Linked DNA regions of Homo sapiens: region 1 is linked to region 2. Evidence: fine-mapped expression QTL. Tissue or cell type: whole blood. Region 2 holds a variant in brackets; the other region holds the start of a gene. All regions are shown on one strand. Distances are from middle to middle.

What was found.
Region 1: ALKBH5 starts here. The variant in region 2 is fine-mapped to the expression of ALKBH5 in whole blood (INTERVAL, PIP above 0.99).

The regions. Positions count from the first base shown.
Region 1 is chr17:18,179,768-18,188,580 of GRCh38, forward strand. It overlaps ALKBH5 (alkB homolog 5, RNA demethylase), which reads left to right and starts at 4,061. Exons shown (of 4, transcript NM_017758.4): 1 at 4,061-5,246. The coding sequence starts at 4,477. MYO15A (myosin XVA) reads left to right here. Exons shown (of 66, transcript NM_016239.4): 66 at 1-33. RefSeq lists silencers at 1,728-2,022, 4,159-4,458, 4,539-4,628, 4,787-4,938, 6,162-6,211 and enhancers at 3,449-3,648, 3,709-3,948, 4,056-4,893.
Region 2 is chr17:18,201,286-18,210,098 of GRCh38, forward strand. ALKBH5 (alkB homolog 5, RNA demethylase) reads left to right here. Exons shown (of 4, transcript NM_017758.4): 3 at 5,530-5,685; 4 at 6,934-8,669. The coding sequence ends at 7,111. Among named protein-coding and RNA genes, the nearest start is that of LLGL1, 20 kb to the right of the region's middle. The variant C/T (reference allele first, on the strand shown) is at 3,801.

The DNA.
Region 1 (8,813 bases), 22 kb before region 2:
ATATGAATGAAAAAATAAACGAGTGAATGTTGATAGAAAGTGCTGGTGCTTTGGGGAGCTTGTGCGGGGCAGAGAACACTTGGGGAGACTAGATAGGTAGATGGGGGCATAGCTGCAAGATCCATGGCAGCAGAGAAAGGATTTATCTACTTATTCAGCCATTCAATAGCTATTAAATACCTACTGTGAATGAGGCAAATACCAGGCACTGGCAGTTAATCACAGTCAAATCACCGCAAACTAGGATAAGACCTGTGAGTGGGAGTTAGCTAGGGAAAGAGGAAAGAGAACAACATACGCAGGGGCCCTGAGGTGCGCATTACTTGTAGCAGGATCTGAGACTGAAGAGGCCGGCAAAGATGGTTTCGATAGGGCTTCTGGGCTACATTAAGAATTTAGGATTTCTGGGCCAGGCGCAGTGGCTCATGACTGTAATCCCGGCACTTTGGGAGGCTGAGGCAGGCGGATTGCCTGAGCTCAGCAGTTCGAGACTAGCCTGGGCAACACGGTGAAACCCCGTTTCTACTAAAATAAGAATAATATACAGGGGCAGCCTGCCCCTGTAATCCCAGCTACTCAGGAAGCTGAGGCAGGAGAATGGCTTGAACCTGGGAGGCAGAGGTTGCAGTGAGCCAAGATCATGCCACTGCACTCCAGCCTGGGTGACAGAGTGAGACTCCATCTCCAAAAAAAAAAAAAAAAAAAAAAAAGAATTTAGGATTTCTGGGCCGGGCATGGTGACTAACACTTGTAATCTCAGCACTTTGGGAGGCTGAGGCCAGTGGATCACTTGAGCTCAGGAGTTTGAGAGCAGTCTGACCAACATGGTGAAACCTCTCCTCTACTAAAAATACAAAAATTAGCCGGACATGGTGGCATGCACCTGTAATCCCAGCTACTCAGGAGGCTGAGGCACAAGAGTCACTTGCACCCAGGAGGCGGGGGTTGCAGTGTGTCGAGATCGCGACACTGTACTCCAGCCTGGGCGACAGAGCGAGACTCGGTCTCAAAAAAAAAAAAAATTTAGAATTTCATCCCAAGAGCCATGAGCAGCCTTCAAAGGTTTTCCAGAGGGGGAAGGGGAGGCACAACCTGCACAGACTGTACTTTGTTAAAGCCATTCTGACCACTGAACGGTGAGTGAATGTAGGAGTTGGGGAGACCAGAGGGGGCTGCTGCAGTGTTAGCTGGAAAACTTGTCATAGATTCTAGTGGTGGTGATGGGTGGGGAGAAGTTGGTAACTGGGGAGAGATTAGAAGGCCCAGCTGGCAGGACTAGGGGGTCAATCAGACCATCCTGGGATGGAGAGGATCAAGAAAGAGCCCCTGATACAAATGCCACAGGGCTGTCCTGCTTTTCACCACTGCCTTGGGTTGGCTTTCCCCAGAAGCAGACCCCAAGGTGAGGAAAGTAAGGAACTCACCAGAAAGAGTGTGGTGTCAATCAAGTTACCACTGTGCAGGGGCCATGCCTGGCAGCAGCTCACTTAACCCCTGGGGTTCTGCCTGCGGCGCTGATGCTCAGTATAGGGACCCCCAAAACAGAGCACAGTGGGCTCCAACATGAGGCAGCCCTGAGGCCTGCCCTCTGCCCCTCATTTCTCATTGTTGTGAGATCATACATGGTGTGTGTGAGGGGGAGGGGGTGTCAGGCTAATTCTTTTGCCCCAAAACCTTTTCCCTAGTCAAGCTGAACTATGAGGCTCAGGAAGGGATGATGTGGCAGAGTGAAAACGAGGGGGCCCTTTTGGCTTTCAGAATACAACTGGGGCCTCCCACACAGACTACAAGCGGCTTCTTGGAAGTAGATCATCCAGGTTGAGCCAAAATGTGAATCACCTCTTCTCTAGGTTGACACAGCCTCTCCCATAACGGACACTGCATTGGAAGCTTCCCTGTGTTCCTCCCTGACTGCTCTTGAGCTAGGACTCTCCCCTCTCGGAGCCCCGGTGAGGGACAGCACAGATTCTGGAACCAGGCAGCCTGGGTTTGAATCATCACTAGGCCACATACTCGCTGTATGGCCTTGGGCAAGTCATTTCACCTCTCTGGGCCTGTTTCCCTATATATACAATGGTAATAATAATAATGCCCTCCTCATTGAATTGTTTGGACGATTAATTGGGCTAGTATATGCACAGGTCCTGGCACATAGTAAAAACTTGATAAGCTTTTTAAAAAAATGTCCATTCCAGGCTGGGCGCAGTGGCTTACGCCTGTAATCCCAGCACTTTGGGAGGCCGAGGCAGGAGGATCTTGTGCCCAGTAGTTCCAAGACCAATTTGACAACATGGTGAAACCCCATCTCTGCTAAAAACAGAAAAATTAGCGGGGTGTGGTGGTACACGCCTCTACATAGTTCCAGCTACTCAGGAGGCTGAGGTGTGGGAGGATGTCTTGAACCCGGGAGGTCGAGATTGCAGTCAGCCAAGATCGTGCCACTGCACTTCAGCCTGGGCAACAGAGACTCTGTCAAAAAAGAACGAGGAGGAGGAGGGGAAGGGGGAGAGAGAGAGGGAGACGGGTGATAAGGAACTGGCATGGGCAACAGCCATGGCAAACAGCCTGGGCAAAGGCCAGGAGGTGAGACACAGTATGTTTGTAGACCTGGCTTACAGGATGAGGACCAGGCTGGGGCTCAGTGTACATGGAAAGAGAGGAGAGGAGGAGCCAAGGCCAGAAGAGTCTTGAAGAAAAGCTTTGAGTGCCAAATAAAGCAGGGGAACTTTATCCTGGGAGACATGGGAGATTTTCCAGCAGATCCCCCCCGACCCCCATTTGTTGGAGCCCTCCAGTGCATCCTGCACGGCTACGCCTTTTTGTTTTGTTTTGCAGCTCTGTCGCCCAGGCCGGAGTGCAGTGGCGCCAGCTCGGCTCTCTGCAGCCTCAATCCCCTGGGCTCAAGGGATCCTCCCACCTCAGCCTCCTGAGTAGCTAGGACCATAGGCGCGCGCCACCACGCCCAGTTCATTTTTAAAAATTTTATTGTAGAGATGGGGTTGCCATGTTGGCCAGGCTGGTCTCAAACTCCTGGGCTCAAGTGATCCGCCCGCCTTGGCCTCGCAAAGTGCTGGGATTACAGGCGTGAGGCCCCGCGCCCGGCAACGCCTTTGCTGACTGCTTCAAAACTTTTTTGAATTGACTGTAGTCATTATCTATAGCTTAGCCTTAGCCTTGCGCCCGTTCGTTTCCTGGAGTTTTCTTCCAGAGTCCCCGTAGGAGGTGCCCCCACGCCCATCTCCAGCACCAAGGAGGCTCGACGCCAACCCCAGCGCGCCCCCACGCTCGCCGTCACCGGGACGTGACTCGTGAAACGTCCGCTCCGGGCGGCGGCGGCAGCGGCGGCAGGCTGGCTTGTACCCCGACAACGCGCGTCTGGCTTCTGCCGGACGTTCCTATCTGGGTTCAGAACTGGGGCCGGGTGCTGCAGGTCCCGCAGTCTGAGAAGTTTTCGCGGGTTTCAGAAGTTTCCTTAGGCGTTCTAAGGGCTTTACTCAGGTGGAGTCTCCATTCAGGCACTTATTTAACCACCCATTTCTCCTTTAGGGGTCCTCGCTGCTCGCCCAGCCGCTAATTAAGTGACGGACACAGTAGCTAAGGAGACTGCCTGATTGACACGCATGATTACCAACCGACTTCCGGAAACTCCAGTCAGGGCCTGCCCGGCGCGTGGCCCACGGCCCAATTAAAGAAGTGGAAGCGCCAAAGGGGGAGGTAACGGAGCGGCCTACGTTGTGGCGGTTCCCTGGTGAATGCGCCCTGGGGTTGAGGCGTCTGCGGGCGTTCGGACGATGCCGTGACGCGGCACGGCGACACTGTTGGCAATATGAGCGCACCCCTGTAGAGGGAGCCCTTCGGTCCTGGAGGCGGCGCGGCGTGAAGACAGGTTGCTATTTGAGAGCGTTCCCTTGAAGCCCCTCAGAGAGTGGGGGAGGGGCGGCGGACGGCAAGCGGTTCCTGTCTGCGCTTGCGCCGGCGCCTCTGCCGACCCGGCCTGCACGCACGCGCATGCCCGTAGCGCGCGGAGCCGCGGTGGCCGGCAGCACTGCGCGTGCGCGGTGAGGAGCCCGCTAAGGAGCGGCGCTGGCGGACGTCGGGCTGGCTGCCCGTGACGTCGTGCGGAGAGCTTTAAAGTGCGGGCCGGGCCGGGCGTCCGAGGGTCTGGTCGGGAGTCGGGCCGCGTCTCCGCAGCAGCCCTCCGCGGCATGAGGCGCTGCCGGCGCCCCTGCCCCGCGGGACGTGGAGAAGGTGGAGGAGGAAGAAGCCCCGTTGTCGCCACCGTTGCATGACCCGCCGCTCCTGAGGCCCTACCCCACGCCCGGACCCTCGACGCCCCCCGCCGGGTCCCCCACTCACGCATGGGGGTTCGGCGCTAAGGACCCCCCTCCCTCCGGGGGCCCCGGGGCGCGTCCCCTTAGAGCCATGCCCGGCTGCCCCGCCCGCCCCGGAGGACCCTAGAGCAGCGTCGTGGGGGCCATGGCGGCCGCCAGCGGCTACACGGACCTGCGTGAGAAGCTCAAGTCCATGACGTCCCGGGACAACTATAAGGCGGGCAGCCGGGAGGCCGCCGCCGCTGCCGCAGCCGCCGTAGCCGCCGCAGCCGCAGCCGCCGCTGCCGCCGAACCTTACCCTGTGTCCGGGGCCAAGCGCAAGTATCAGGAGGACTCGGACCCCGAGCGCAGCGACTATGAGGAGCAGCAGCTGCAGAAGGAGGAGGAGGCGCGCAAGGTGAAGAGCGGCATCCGCCAGATGCGCCTCTTCAGCCAGGACGAGTGCGCCAAGATCGAGGCCCGCATTGACGAGGTGGTGTCCCGCGCTGAGAAGGGCCTGTACAACGAGCACACGGTGGACCGGGCCCCACTGCGCAACAAGTACTTCTTCGGCGAAGGCTACACTTACGGCGCCCAGCTGCAGAAGCGCGGGCCCGGCCAGGAGCGCCTCTACCCGCCGGGCGACGTGGACGAGATCCCCGAGTGGGTGCACCAGCTGGTGATCCAAAAGCTGGTGGAGCACCGCGTCATCCCCGAGGGCTTCGTCAACAGCGCCGTCATCAACGACTACCAGCCCGGCGGCTGCATCGTGTCTCACGTGGACCCCATCCACATCTTCGAGCGCCCCATCGTGTCCGTGTCCTTCTTTAGCGACTCTGCGCTGTGCTTCGGCTGCAAGTTCCAGTTCAAGCCTATTCGGGTGTCGGAACCAGTGCTTTCCCTGCCGGTGCGCAGGGGAAGCGTGACTGTGCTCAGGTAACCCACCCGGGTGGAGGGGGCGGCCCTGCGCCTGCTGCCTTAGCTACCCACCCTGGCCCAGAAAGCAGCAGCCCGTAGGAGTCTGCGTTTTTTACAGTTCTGACCAGTTCTTCTGTTTGTAGATTGTAGGGAGCGAGAGAAGGGTTTTGTGTTTAAGATACCTATAGCAAGAAAATAGGGAACCGATGTGGAAATCCTGTCCCCGAAGGCAGGTTTGACGGGATCACTGACTTGGCTGAGAATTCATCGAAAGCCATCTTTTCAGAAGGCTGTTCCCTTTGATTTTTTTTTTTCCCACCATCCATTTCTTAGCATAAGTCCCTTTGTGATTTTCCGGTTTTCCATTCTGGCCTTCCATTTACAAATCTATGCTTTAAAATTTTTTTTTTTTTTAATTTATCTAAAAGTCTTTCTTGTTCTGCCATTTTTGGATTCCTTAACAGAGAAAGTAGTCACAGGCAAAGGCCCCAGAGATTATTTAATTGAAGCACATTCTCCATTCCCAGGAGGGGGAGTGACTTCCCTGGAGTTGAACAGATTAGTGGTTGGGCCAGGCATACAGAGCAGCACACTCTTAAAATTCTTCCCTCCTGGCTGCAGAAGAGCCCATCAGTTCTTTGTAAGAACGTGTTACTTGTAGTCAGGACTGAATACAACAGAATACAGCTGGTCTCTTGACTGTTTGGCCTTACAGTTGCGTGAGCAGCAGAACTTAGGCTTTTGGCCTATATTCGGTTCCCAGATCCTGCTGAGAATTAGCTCAGTGCCCTGGCCCCCAGAGGAGATTGCCATTGGGAACACCTTTGCTGTTTATGTGAAGTGAAAATTTATTTGGAAGCGGCCTCCTTCCAGTCCTGAAAAAGGTAAACCTAGTAATGTAATTCAGTAATACCCAAAACATCTTAGGTTTAGACCGCAGCTGTTCTCAGAGCAGCTTGGTTGACCACCACCAAATACAAGGTTGAGGACACACTGGGCTTTTGTCGTGAGCAGCCCAGGTTCTGAAGTGAGTCAGTAGGGCCAAAGTCATGAGGAGAAGCAGGGTCCCTGGAGCCTTCTTGATATGAGATTAGGTCATCTGTTTCATTTGAGTCTAACAGCTGAGGCTGCTTCCATGTTGGGGATGGCAGCAGAGCCTTGTAATGTCCAAGACGTCCTGGTGGGAAGGTGGGAAGTCAGTAGTAGCAGAAGCGATACTTTAGCTCTTTAGGCATCTGAAACTTAGAGGACAGCCTAGCTGTCAGATGCCTTCTTATAATGGGCTTCTGAGCTTCTCAGATCTTCATGGCGCTCCTAGATGGATGTCTTGGCAAAATGCTTTAAGATGGGATTTCCAGGACACACCCTCTCCGGGTGCTTGCTGTGTAAGGCAGGTTGGGGTCTGACCCCATTGACGGGTTCTCAGTGCAAAAATTACCTCACACAAGGACCATTTGGTCTCTTAGCGGGATATTAATTTTCTGCGTAGTCATTGGCCCTCAGGGTGGTTGTCAGGAGGTCTAGTAGTGGTCTGGTGCTTAATGAGGGGATCACAAGGCATTTTTTTTTGGTTTTGGGACTACTACTCTCCTTAACACATGCCCACCCTGTATTTTAAGAACAGAAGTTTCGAGTTCTTAGTATGCAGGTCTGTTAGTGATCAGCAACAGGATTGCATCATCAGGAAAATTCTCTTCATCTTTTCCTCAGAATAGTAAAGTCCTAAAGCTTTCCCAGTCCCTGTCAACCCTTTCTGGATTCAGACTTGGCTGTGGTGTTAGTGTGGGAGGCTCAGCCATGTCCTGAAAAGTGCTGCCCCAGGCTTTGAATCCAGCTTTTCTCTCATTTGCTTTGGGATCTTGTAGGCGTTCTCTGAGCTGGCTTTCCCATCTGTAAGTGGGGATGATGCCAACTTCCAAAGCCTATTAGAATTAAATGTGGTGATTTGTTGTCTAAGATAGGGCCTGGCACAGGGTAGGTACTTAAATGGGTGCTTGCTTTCATATACAACCACTCAGTGATCCCCTGCTCTCTCACTGGGGAAGGAACTAGGGATTTGGTGGAGCCTGAAACATGACAGTTTCCCTTCGTGTAGTTCAAGCCCCATGGAGGCCTCAGACAGGAGGATAAGTTATAGCCCAGGAAGGTAACTGCAGAAGCACACTGAAGGGGGACATCTTTTCCACTTTGGAGTGTTGGAAGTTTAGGGGAGGAAATGAACTGGAATGTGAAAAGTGACTAGGAATGAGCCAAGCAGAGAAAGGTGGAGAAATACACAACAGCAGTGTCTTTGGCTGCAGTAGCAGGAGTAGCCATAGGTAAGAGGGGGTGGATGTTGATGGGAGGCAGATGGAGTTCATTAGTAGAGACTGTGGTTGAGGGTGCTCTGGTGAACTCTAGATCAGGGCTTCTCAACAGTGCTATTGTTATTCAGGGCTTGATAATGCTTCATTGTTGAGGCTGTTCGTGCATTGTAGACTGTTCAGCAGCATTCCTGGCTTCTATCTGCTAGGTGCCAATAGTGTTTTTTATGACAACCAGAAAGTGTCCAGACACTGCCAAATGCCGAGGCAGGGGAAGTGCAGAATCCTTAGTTGAGAGTCACTGCTCTAGGGTCTGGACCCTTCCACTAATTAAATCTTCTTGCACCTGCATACTTAGCTTACCTTGGTATGCAGGTGGGTGAACACCTGCCTATTAGTAGTGCCCGTCGTCAAATCCTGCATATAAACTGGTAAGAAGTGGTGCTTTCTCTTTTCCTGGTACAGATCCTAGCCCAGAGGTGATGAGCAGTAAAGCTGCAGATTGGAAGGGAGGGGCTGGTGAAAACAGTGGTGCGGTGCAGATGGGGAGGGATTCTAGTAGTAGGCATCTTAGACTTCAGTTGGTGTTGGTGGCAATGGTATCTGTACCCCTCTAAGACCGCATGGCAAGAATACAATTTTATATTTAATAGTGATCAGCATGGATGTTGGTGCGTCACAAACATTGACTCAGCAGTGTCTAAACCTGGGCATTTAGAACAAGGCCTCACAGAATCTTCTGGAAGTGCTTCAAACTCCTTTCCAAACCTAGTCGTCAGTTGTTTTTTGTAACCTTCCCATGTTAGGCCTGGGTGGATCCCCTCTTAAGGCTGTACTTTAGGGAAATATTTTTTATCTTCATATCACTTTATCTGTCATTCATTCTCCTATTCCCTGTTGGCTGCATGGGGCAGATTAAAACAGACTCTGATTGGACTAATTAGAATAATTACTTCAAGGCTAATTGCTTACTTGCTGCTATCTTTAATCACTGCTACGTGGTCTGTGGTGTGGTGGCCACATGCCCAGAGACCCAGGCCTAGGCCAGCCGTCTGGAAATGACTGTATCACCCAGGCACGGGGCATGCACTGGTGAGCTCAGCCTGTGACTCTTCCAGTTAACGGTTGGTATTGGGTGGAGTGGGCACCCCTGTCAGTTCTGGGATAGTCTGATCTTGTTCAGCTGGTTGAAAGCAAAATTTAGCTTTCTGGCTTAAAATAGTTGGGAAAGTAGGGCAGATAGGTCCTGGGCCACATCTCTTGTGTGGACTCTTCTGATTCC
Region 2 (8,813 bases):
GCCTGACTGTTCTGATGTGTCTGTGGCCTGCCCAAGGAATATGGGTACAATGGGATCACCAGGAAGGTGACAAACTTGGGCTTCTGCCCTGGCTCTGCCACTCCTCTCCAAATGCAGTCTTATCTGCACCTGTAAATTGGGCAGTTGTGGTTAAACTTGTGAATGCTAGGTGGTCTTCTAAACTCTTCCTGGCTGGGTGCGGTGGCTCGCACTTGTAATCCCAGCACTTTGGGAAGCCGAGGTGGGCGGATTGCCTGAGCGCGGGAGTTTGAGACCACCCTGGGCAACATGGTGAAACCCCATCTCTACTAAAATACAAAAAATTAGCCGGGCGTGGTAGCATGCATCTGTAGTCCCAGCTACTTGGGAGAATCGCTTGAGCATGGGAGGCAGAGGTTGCAGTGAGCCAAGATTGCACCACTGCACTCCAGCTTGGGCTACAGGGTGAGACTCCATCTTAGATAGATAGATAGATAGATAGATAGATAGATAGATAGATAGGATAGATAAGATAGATAGATAGATAGATAGATAGATAGATAGATAGATAGATGATAGATAGATTGATTGATTGATTTAAAAAACCAGGTGTGGTGGCATATACCTATAGTCCGAGCTACTCGCGAGCCTGAGGCAGGAGGATTGCTTGAGCCCAGGAGGTCAAGGCTGCAGTGAGCTGTAATCCCACCCGTGCACTCCAGGCTGGGTGATAGACCTTGTTTCAAAGAAAGTAATTAATTGGCCGGGTGCGGTGGTTCACGCCTGTAATTCCAGCACTTTGGGAGGCTGAGGCGGGCGGATCGTGAGGTCAGGAGATCGAGACCATCCTGGCTAACACGGTGAAACCCCGTCTCTACTAAAAATACAAAAAAAATCAGCCGGGCATGGTGGCAGGCGCCTGTCGTTGCAGCTACTTGGAGGCTGAGGCAGGAGAATGGCATGAACCCAGGAGGCGGAGGTTGCAGTGAGCCGAGATCGCACCACAGCACCCCAACCTGGGCGACAGAGCGAGACTCCGACTCAAAACAAAAAACAAAAAACAAAAAAAAACAGAAGTCTGATGTTGGCAGGGGGCTGGTGGAAGATGGGTGGGGAGAGTCCCGTGAGGGGAGTGGGTACTACTGCAGGAGAGCCAGCAAGGTACAGACCTGAGCTTTGTGGGAGTCTGATTCTCAAAGGTGCTGGAGCTTAGACCTTAGCTCTAGGGACCCAGGTTACTAAATAGGCAAGAGGGTGCTTGGACAGGCCCACAATACTGGTCTCTGCCTCGCTTTGTTGGAAAGCCAAGCTTTTAGCACAAGGATGCCTGGTAAAGGTGGTGCCAGACGTTGGAGAGTAGTTGGTAGCTGGCTGGGGACTGCCCTCGCTCCAGAGTCATCGTGGCCTGAGTGCGGTCTGGTTTACCATCTTCCCAGAAATGGTGGTGCTGCCACCTGCATGCACAGTGTTCTCTTGCACTGAGGAGGGCCCACCTGCACTTTATTTTTTAATTAAAAAAAAAAAATTAGGGCCGGGCACGATGGCTCACGCCTGTAATTCCAGCACTTCGGGAGGCTGAGGCAGGCGGATCATGAGGTCAAGAGATCAAGACCATCCTGGCCAACATGGTGAAACCCTGTCCCTACTAAAAATACAAAAATTAGCTGGGCATGGTGGCGTGCACCTGTAGTCCCAGCTACTCATGAGGCTGAGGCAGGAGAATTGCCTGAACCTGGGAGGTGGAGGTGCAGTGAACCAAGATCGTGCCACTGCACTCCAGCCTGGAGACAGAGCAAGATTGTCTTTTAAAAAAAAAAAAAAAAAAAAGAGTTTAAATAGGGACAAGGTCTTACTTTGTTGCCCAGGTTGGTCTGAAACTCCTGGCTTTTAAGTAATCCTTCTACCTTGGCCTCCCAAAGTGCTGGGATTACAGGTGTGAGCCACTGTGCCTGGCCCCACCTGTGCTTTAGAGGCCATCACAGAGTAGTAGGTAGTAGCTTTGTGACTCAAGCTAGTGATTTGCTCTGGGATTTAGCTTTGCTCTCCAGTCCCTACAGGGAGAATAATTCACCCCAGCAGCTTCTCTGGAGGACCTAGGATAGGATCAACTCCCTCCCTTCCCTTCGGTTCACACTTTAGTGCTACAGCCATCCTTTGTTGTGACCTCCCTTGTCCCTGCTTTGTCCTGACACGGTAGGTGGCCGCTCTGGGTATCACGGTCAACCTCACATGCCCGAGGTCACATGCCCGAGGTGCTTTGCTCTGACCTTTGAATACTGACTCATCTGTAAGGCAGGTCTTCATTCCTGTTGCCACCTGAGGAGGCCTGGGTCCAGACCTTACTGCTAGAACTGAGCCTCCTGAATCCAGATTTGTGACTCTCTGCTAAACCCTGAGGACCTGGCCTACGCCATGAGAGTTGGTTGCCTTTTAACAGGGGCATGTTCTGAAGTTAAGCTACTGGTGGGCACTGGGCTTGGAGTCAAGCTCTAGCCTGGCATCCTGCAGCTTGGTGAATTTTTGGAAGTGTAGGGAGGGCAGGAGCTTCTCCAGCTGTTATGAGATGTACTTATAACAGTCCCAGGGGATGTGTCAAGAGCTCTCATCTTGGTGGCTCTGCTTTTCTCCTACCATCCATCATTCACCCGAAGAAACAACTCCAGAGTGCCCCCACTAGGGCTTCACTGGGGCTTTTGGGGCACACAGGGGCCTTCCTTCCCTGAACATGGGCTCCCTGGCACCTATAGAGTCTTAGCTTTATGGGTACCAGAGGAGGGACTTTCTTCAATGAGGCCCTTAGAGTCCTTTAAGTCAAGTATAAAGGCTAACATTTTATTTAGTCTGATTTCTGCCACCTGGACCTCTCAACTTGATGACACGAAGCCTGGTAAAGAAAAGGTCATTGGGCCAGGCGTGGTGGCTCACGCCTTTAATTTCAGCACTTTGGGAAGCCAGGACGGGCAGATCACCTGAGGTCGGGAGTTCAAGACCAGCCTGACCAACATGGAGAAACCCCATCTCTACTAAAAATACAAAAGTAGCCAGGCGTTGGGGTGCATGCCTGTAATCCTAGCAATTCGGGAGGCTGAGGCAGAAGAGTTGCTTGAACGCGGGAGGCGGAGGTTGCAGTGAGCCAAGATCGTGCCAGTGCACTCCACCCTGGACAACAAGAGTAAAACTCTCTTAAAAAAAAAAAAAAATAGAAAAGGTAATTGGGCCAGGTGTGGTGGCTCAGGCCCATAATCCTAGCAGTTTGGGAGGCTGAGATGGGCAGATCGCTTGAGCCCCAGTGTTTGAGACCAGTCTGGCTAACATGGTGAAATGCTGTCTCTACTGAAAATATAAAAATTAGCCGAGTGTGGCAGCGGGTACCTATAATCTCAGCTGCTTGGGAGGTTGAGGTGGGAGGATCGCTTGAAGTTGCAATGAGCCAAGATCCCGCCACTGCACTCCAGCCTGGGCGACAGAAGGAGCCCCTGTCTCAAAAAATAATAATAAAAATAAAAAGCTCATCTGGAGCCGGGCTTGATGGCTCATACCTGTAATCTCAACACTTTGGGAGGCTGAGGTGGGAGGATCACTTAGAAGAGTTAGAGACCAGCCTAGGCAAAATGGTGGTACCCTGTCTCGCCAAAAAAAAACCATTAGCCGGGCATGGTGGCCCAGTCCTAGCTTCTTGGGAGGCTTGGGCAGGAGGATCCCTTAAGCCTAGGAGTTCAAGGCTGCAGTGAGTTATGATCATACCACTGCCCTCCAGACTGGGCGACAGAGCAAAACACGATCTCTCTTTAAAAAAAAAAGAATGGTTCTATTCTATTTCA[C/T]ATACTCATCTCTGGTAGTTGCCCAGTACCACCTCTACCCAGAGAATCCCAGCCTTGAAGGAGGCAACTTGCCTTCGATTCCTTAGACCCTCAGCGCAAAGAAGCCTTAGAGCTAGTCACATTTCTTTCTTTTGCTCAGATGGGGAAACTGAGGCCCGAGGAGGGATGGTGACTAGCTTGGACTCTGAATGGCAGTGCCAAAACTAGATCATCCTCCTGTTGATGTTAGGTTCTGCATCCATGAGTCTGGAGGAGTCCAGAGTGGAGTCTGAGACTGAAGAGTCACTCACTGCAGCTGGGCCCTACTGGCATCCCCCTCTGCAAGGCCAACCCAAAGGGATGGGGATGCCTGTCCTACCTGCCTACCCACCAGTTTGGGCCTGAGGCATCAGAACATTGGTTCCCAGCTGGAAGGAAGGAGATGCCCCTGCTGCCTTTAGGAGAGAGATTTCCTACCCACGTTCAGAGTAACTCTTGCCTGTCAGGCTTGAAGTCTCACTTTGGCTTTAAACTTTCCCCCGTGACTTGCAGGATGCATGACTTACTGCCTTTCTGATCCTTCCCATCTATGTACAGTAGGCCAGCCAGTGGAATGTGGAGAGGCAGCCATGGGGAATGGGGGAAACTGAGGACCAGATGCAGTTGTTACCAAGGATGCCAAGCAGCCTAGCCCAAGGCAGTTCTTGGATTTCCCTCCTGCTTACTTCTCCCCAGCATCCTCTAGTATCCTTAGAGTCCTGCTCTGACTGCAGCCCCTACTCCTTCGGAACTAAGTTACTACTTTGTGTCTAGCAGACCCTGGAAAAGGTGCCTTCAGGGTCTCTGCTAGCTATGTCCTATCGCTTCCCACCCAGTCTATTACATGGGTCCTTCTGCCCTTTGCTCCCACCTGCCTGACTTGCCAGCCTTCTCTGTACCACACAAGGAGCCTGAGGGCTTTGAGGTTTTCCATGCCAGCTCCCTTCTGTTCTGGCTTCATAAAGGACTTGGATCACTGCCCTGAGTTACCGCTACCCAGCTTCTCCATCCCCCTCTTCCTCATCTGTATTTGTGTGCCTTCCCTTTACTAGGCAGTGTATTCCTTGAAACCTATGGCTACACCTGCTGCTTGGTGGGGACTGTGCCTTCAAAAGCCCTCTGGCCTTTACCTTGTCAGCATCCTGAAATGAGCAGAAACTGCCAGATGACTGCTCATGGTTGTGGAGTGGGCCTGGGTTCCCTACCCTGGCTCTGCCACTCAGTCTCAGCATCCCTGTCTGCACAGTGAGAAGATAGGGTAGCTCTGGCTCTCTTTCTCTCCAGCCCCTCTACAGGCCTGGACCAGGGATCCTTCCTGTGTTGGGACCCACCAGTGGGGCCGTTGGTCCTCTGGCAAATGAAGTAGATGGCCCCAGAGAACCTGTGGGTCCAAGTGGAGTGAGGTGAGGCTGCTTGGTTCAGCTAAGAGCGAGCCCTGGGATCTTGCCCCTAGGGTAGCACAGCCTGTCATTGGGAGTTTCCAGACAGAAGTGTTCCCATTCCTTACTCCTAAAGGTGGACTTGAGGAGGGTCTTTGAAAGTCAGCTAGACCAATCTCTAGTTGAACCTCAAGGAGAGTGAGGTACAGAGCAGAGACTGCTGGCTTCCAGGTCTAGCTGGCTCCCACTTGGCCTGGCCAGAGAATTGGTCTGATGGTGCCCACACCTTCACCGGAGGCCCTTTGGTGACCCCATGCATGTTTCCTTTGCAGGACAAGATTAGATGCACCCCGGTTGGAAACAAAGTCCCTGAGCAGCTCCGTGTTACCACCCAGCTATGCTTCAGATCGCCTGTCAGGAAACAACAGGGACCCTGCTCTGAAACCCAAGCGGTCCCACCGCAAGGCAGACCCTGATGCTGCCCACAGGTACTCAGTTTAGGACCCTCAGCAAAGGCTGGCAAAGGCCTGGCTGCAGGGTGAGAAGGGTGGAGAAGCCTGGGGTAGGCTGTTTAGGAGCCTTGGCTTGCTCACCCTTTCAAAACCTTATGTCTGGTTCCTCTGGGTTGGTGGCATTGGTGACATTCCCATCTAACCCTGGCCAACTGCCTGTACACCCAGAGAGAAGGGGTCAGGCAGAGACTGTAACAGATGGCAATATCATGGCTTTCCCATGACTTTCCTTGTTCAGTCTCACCCAGACACCCTTGTGGAATTATACTTAGATGTCAGGAGGGAATCTTGGGACTTGGATAATAGTGAACCAGGGACTTATTTCAAAAAGGATTGGATAAAAGGTATTTGAGGAGATAATTTTTTTTAAAGGAAAAAAAATGTTTTGGCCGGCACAGTGGCTCACGCCTGTAATCCCAGCACTTTGGGAGGCCAAGGCAGGCAGATCACGAGGTCAGGTGATCGAGACCATCCTGGCTAAGACGGTGAAACCCCGTCTCTACTAAAAAATACAAAAAATTAGCCAGGCGTGGTGGCAGGTACCTGTAGTCCCAGCTCCTCGGGAGGCTGAGGCAGGAGAATGGCGTGAACCTGGGAGGCGGAGCTGGCAGTGACCCGAGATGGCACCGCTGCACTCCAGCCTGTGCGACAGAGCAAGAATCCGTCTCAAAAAAAAAAAAAATATTTTTTAAGTGTTGGGGAAGGTTTCCAAGGAGGTAATGTTTAAGTTGATTCCAGAAGGATAAGGAAGACATGGAAGAGCATTCTAGGCAGGAAATACTGTATGAGCTAAACCCTGAGATACAAAAGAGCTTTGTGGTTTCAGGGGGTAATGGGGTTAGTAAGTGGAGAAGGGGGTGTTGGGAGGCCCAAGAGAGAGAAAGTGGGTAGAGCTGGGAAGTAAAGGTAGATGGCAGAACCATGCAGAGTCTTGAGGCTGTGGTAGGGAAGACCTCTGTCCAGCAGCCCTGGCAGTGTCCCAGGGCACCAGACTCCAAGCCAGGCAGACCCCACAGGGTAATTGGGAAATGTCCCAAAGACTGGGATGGTCACTGGCACTTAGTGGGCAAGAACCTCCGATACCAGGGCCTCTGCCAGGACTACCCTTCGTTGAGGACCACTGAGCTGAAGTGACCCATCCCAAGGATGAGACGAGGTACAGCGGTAAAGCCAGGCGCCTCCTGCCAGCCTCTCAGATAACGTCCTACCTCCCTTTCCTTGCAGGCCACGGATCCTGGAGATGGACAAGGAAGAGAACCGGCGCTCGGTGCTGCTGCCCACACACCGGCGGAGGGGTAGCTTCAGCTCTGAGAACTACTGGCGCAAGTCATACGAGTCCTCAGAGGACTGCTCTGAGGCAGCAGGCAGCCCTGCCCGAAAGGTGAAGATGCGGCGGCACTGAGTCTACCCGCCGCCCTCCTGGGAACTCTGGCTCATCCTTACGTAGTTGCCCCTCCTTTTGTTTTGAGGGTTTTGTTTTTGTTCATTGGGGGGTTTTTGTTTTTTGTTTTTTGTTTTTTTTGATTCTATATATTTTTCCTTGGTTTTGTTGCCTGTTAGGGCTGAAGAATAGAATTGGCCAGGACCTAGGTTCTCATATTCTTGGTATTCCTCCTGGATGGAAAGGCTGTTGGCATCAATAGGGGACAGAGGCTGATGCTGGAGTGGCCAGTAGAGGTGGTGGAGCAGAGCAGCCATCTTTTAAGTGGGGCTGTATCAGGCTGGGTTTATTTAAAAGCAACAAAATGTTTTGGTTAAGAAAATTATTTTGCTTTCAGTGTAAATCTTCGCAGTGTTCTAAACAAAGTTCAGTCTTCTGCTCGCCCCTTTCCCTCACTGATGTCTGCACTTGGTTGAGGTCTCCTGGAGCCTCACAGGCTCTGCTGTTCTCCACTTCTCACCTGCCATCCACGCCCTGCAAGCTCATGCAAACACCCTTTCTTCCTCCTGCGGCAGAGTTGTTCAGGTTGCCTGGGCAGGGGCTTAAACAGTGCCAGCCCCTGCCATCCCAAAGCTATTGTTAAGCCCCCCAGGCGTCCTCCACCCACGCCCACTAGCCTGCCATGTCCACAGTTCCTTGGGCTGCTGAGGGGCTAGTGCAGTGGTCCTGACCTCTCTTATCAAGAGCACACTTCTTTGCTGGTTGCTCCTTTTGAGCATATGCGTGTGATTATTTGGAACAGTTAGACTTGCCACGTTGGGTCAGTTTTAGAAATTGTTTCTAGCTAGAGGGACTGGTGTCCTTCCAAGTCTAGCATTTGGGGTATGGAAAATTGTTGTGGTGTGTGGTAGGGTTTTTGTTTTCTTTTTTGAGTTTTTTTTCCCCCTTTAGTCTCCTGGCTTTTTCCTTTCCCTTCCCTTCTCCACTGGCCAGCTTGGGCCTCATCCTCATGTCATCCTTCTAGGAAGGCGCCTGCCCCATCTTGTCTGCCGGCAGCATGCATCCAAGGCCAGAGCTCAGGCCTGCAGACTGGGCTGGTGCCTCCTCCGCTTCAGGGTATGGGAGTTGGTGAAGGGGCTTTCAAAAAATAATAAGGAAAAAAAGGTAAAGTCTTTGGTAGCTTCTATCCACTCAGATCCTGGAAGGCAGCAAGGTTTTGTGGATCTAGATTCATTAGGAATGTCTTCTTGTCAGCCAGGCCAGGACCCGGGCTTGCCAAGAGCAGAGGCCCTCCCAGCAACCAGGATACCACCACTTTGGGGGCTTTGTGTACAGAGGTCCGGGTCTGAGACCTCATAGGCTGCAGAAATCTGGGGCAGCCACCATCAAGAAGCCCCTCTCAGGGGCCAGAACTCCTTTGCCAGCGTGGATTTCTCAAGTCGGGACTGCATAATTAAAGCAGTTGCAGTTTTATTTTTTTTACAGCTTTTTTCCCAAAAATGATTTGTAGTTGTGTGTGCAGCACTTCGCCCTGATATGTGTGCTCTACAATAAAAACCAAATCTAATATATTTTGAAACAGTTGTCTGATGTTGTTGTAAGAGAGGGCTTGCCTTTGGTGCTTCCTTAATCCCTTTACTTTCTTAAACTTGAAACAGGGGTTGGGGAGGCAGAGCTAGCTCATTGGCCGCCAGCGTCCCAGAGGAGTTGGTTGGTCTTGGAC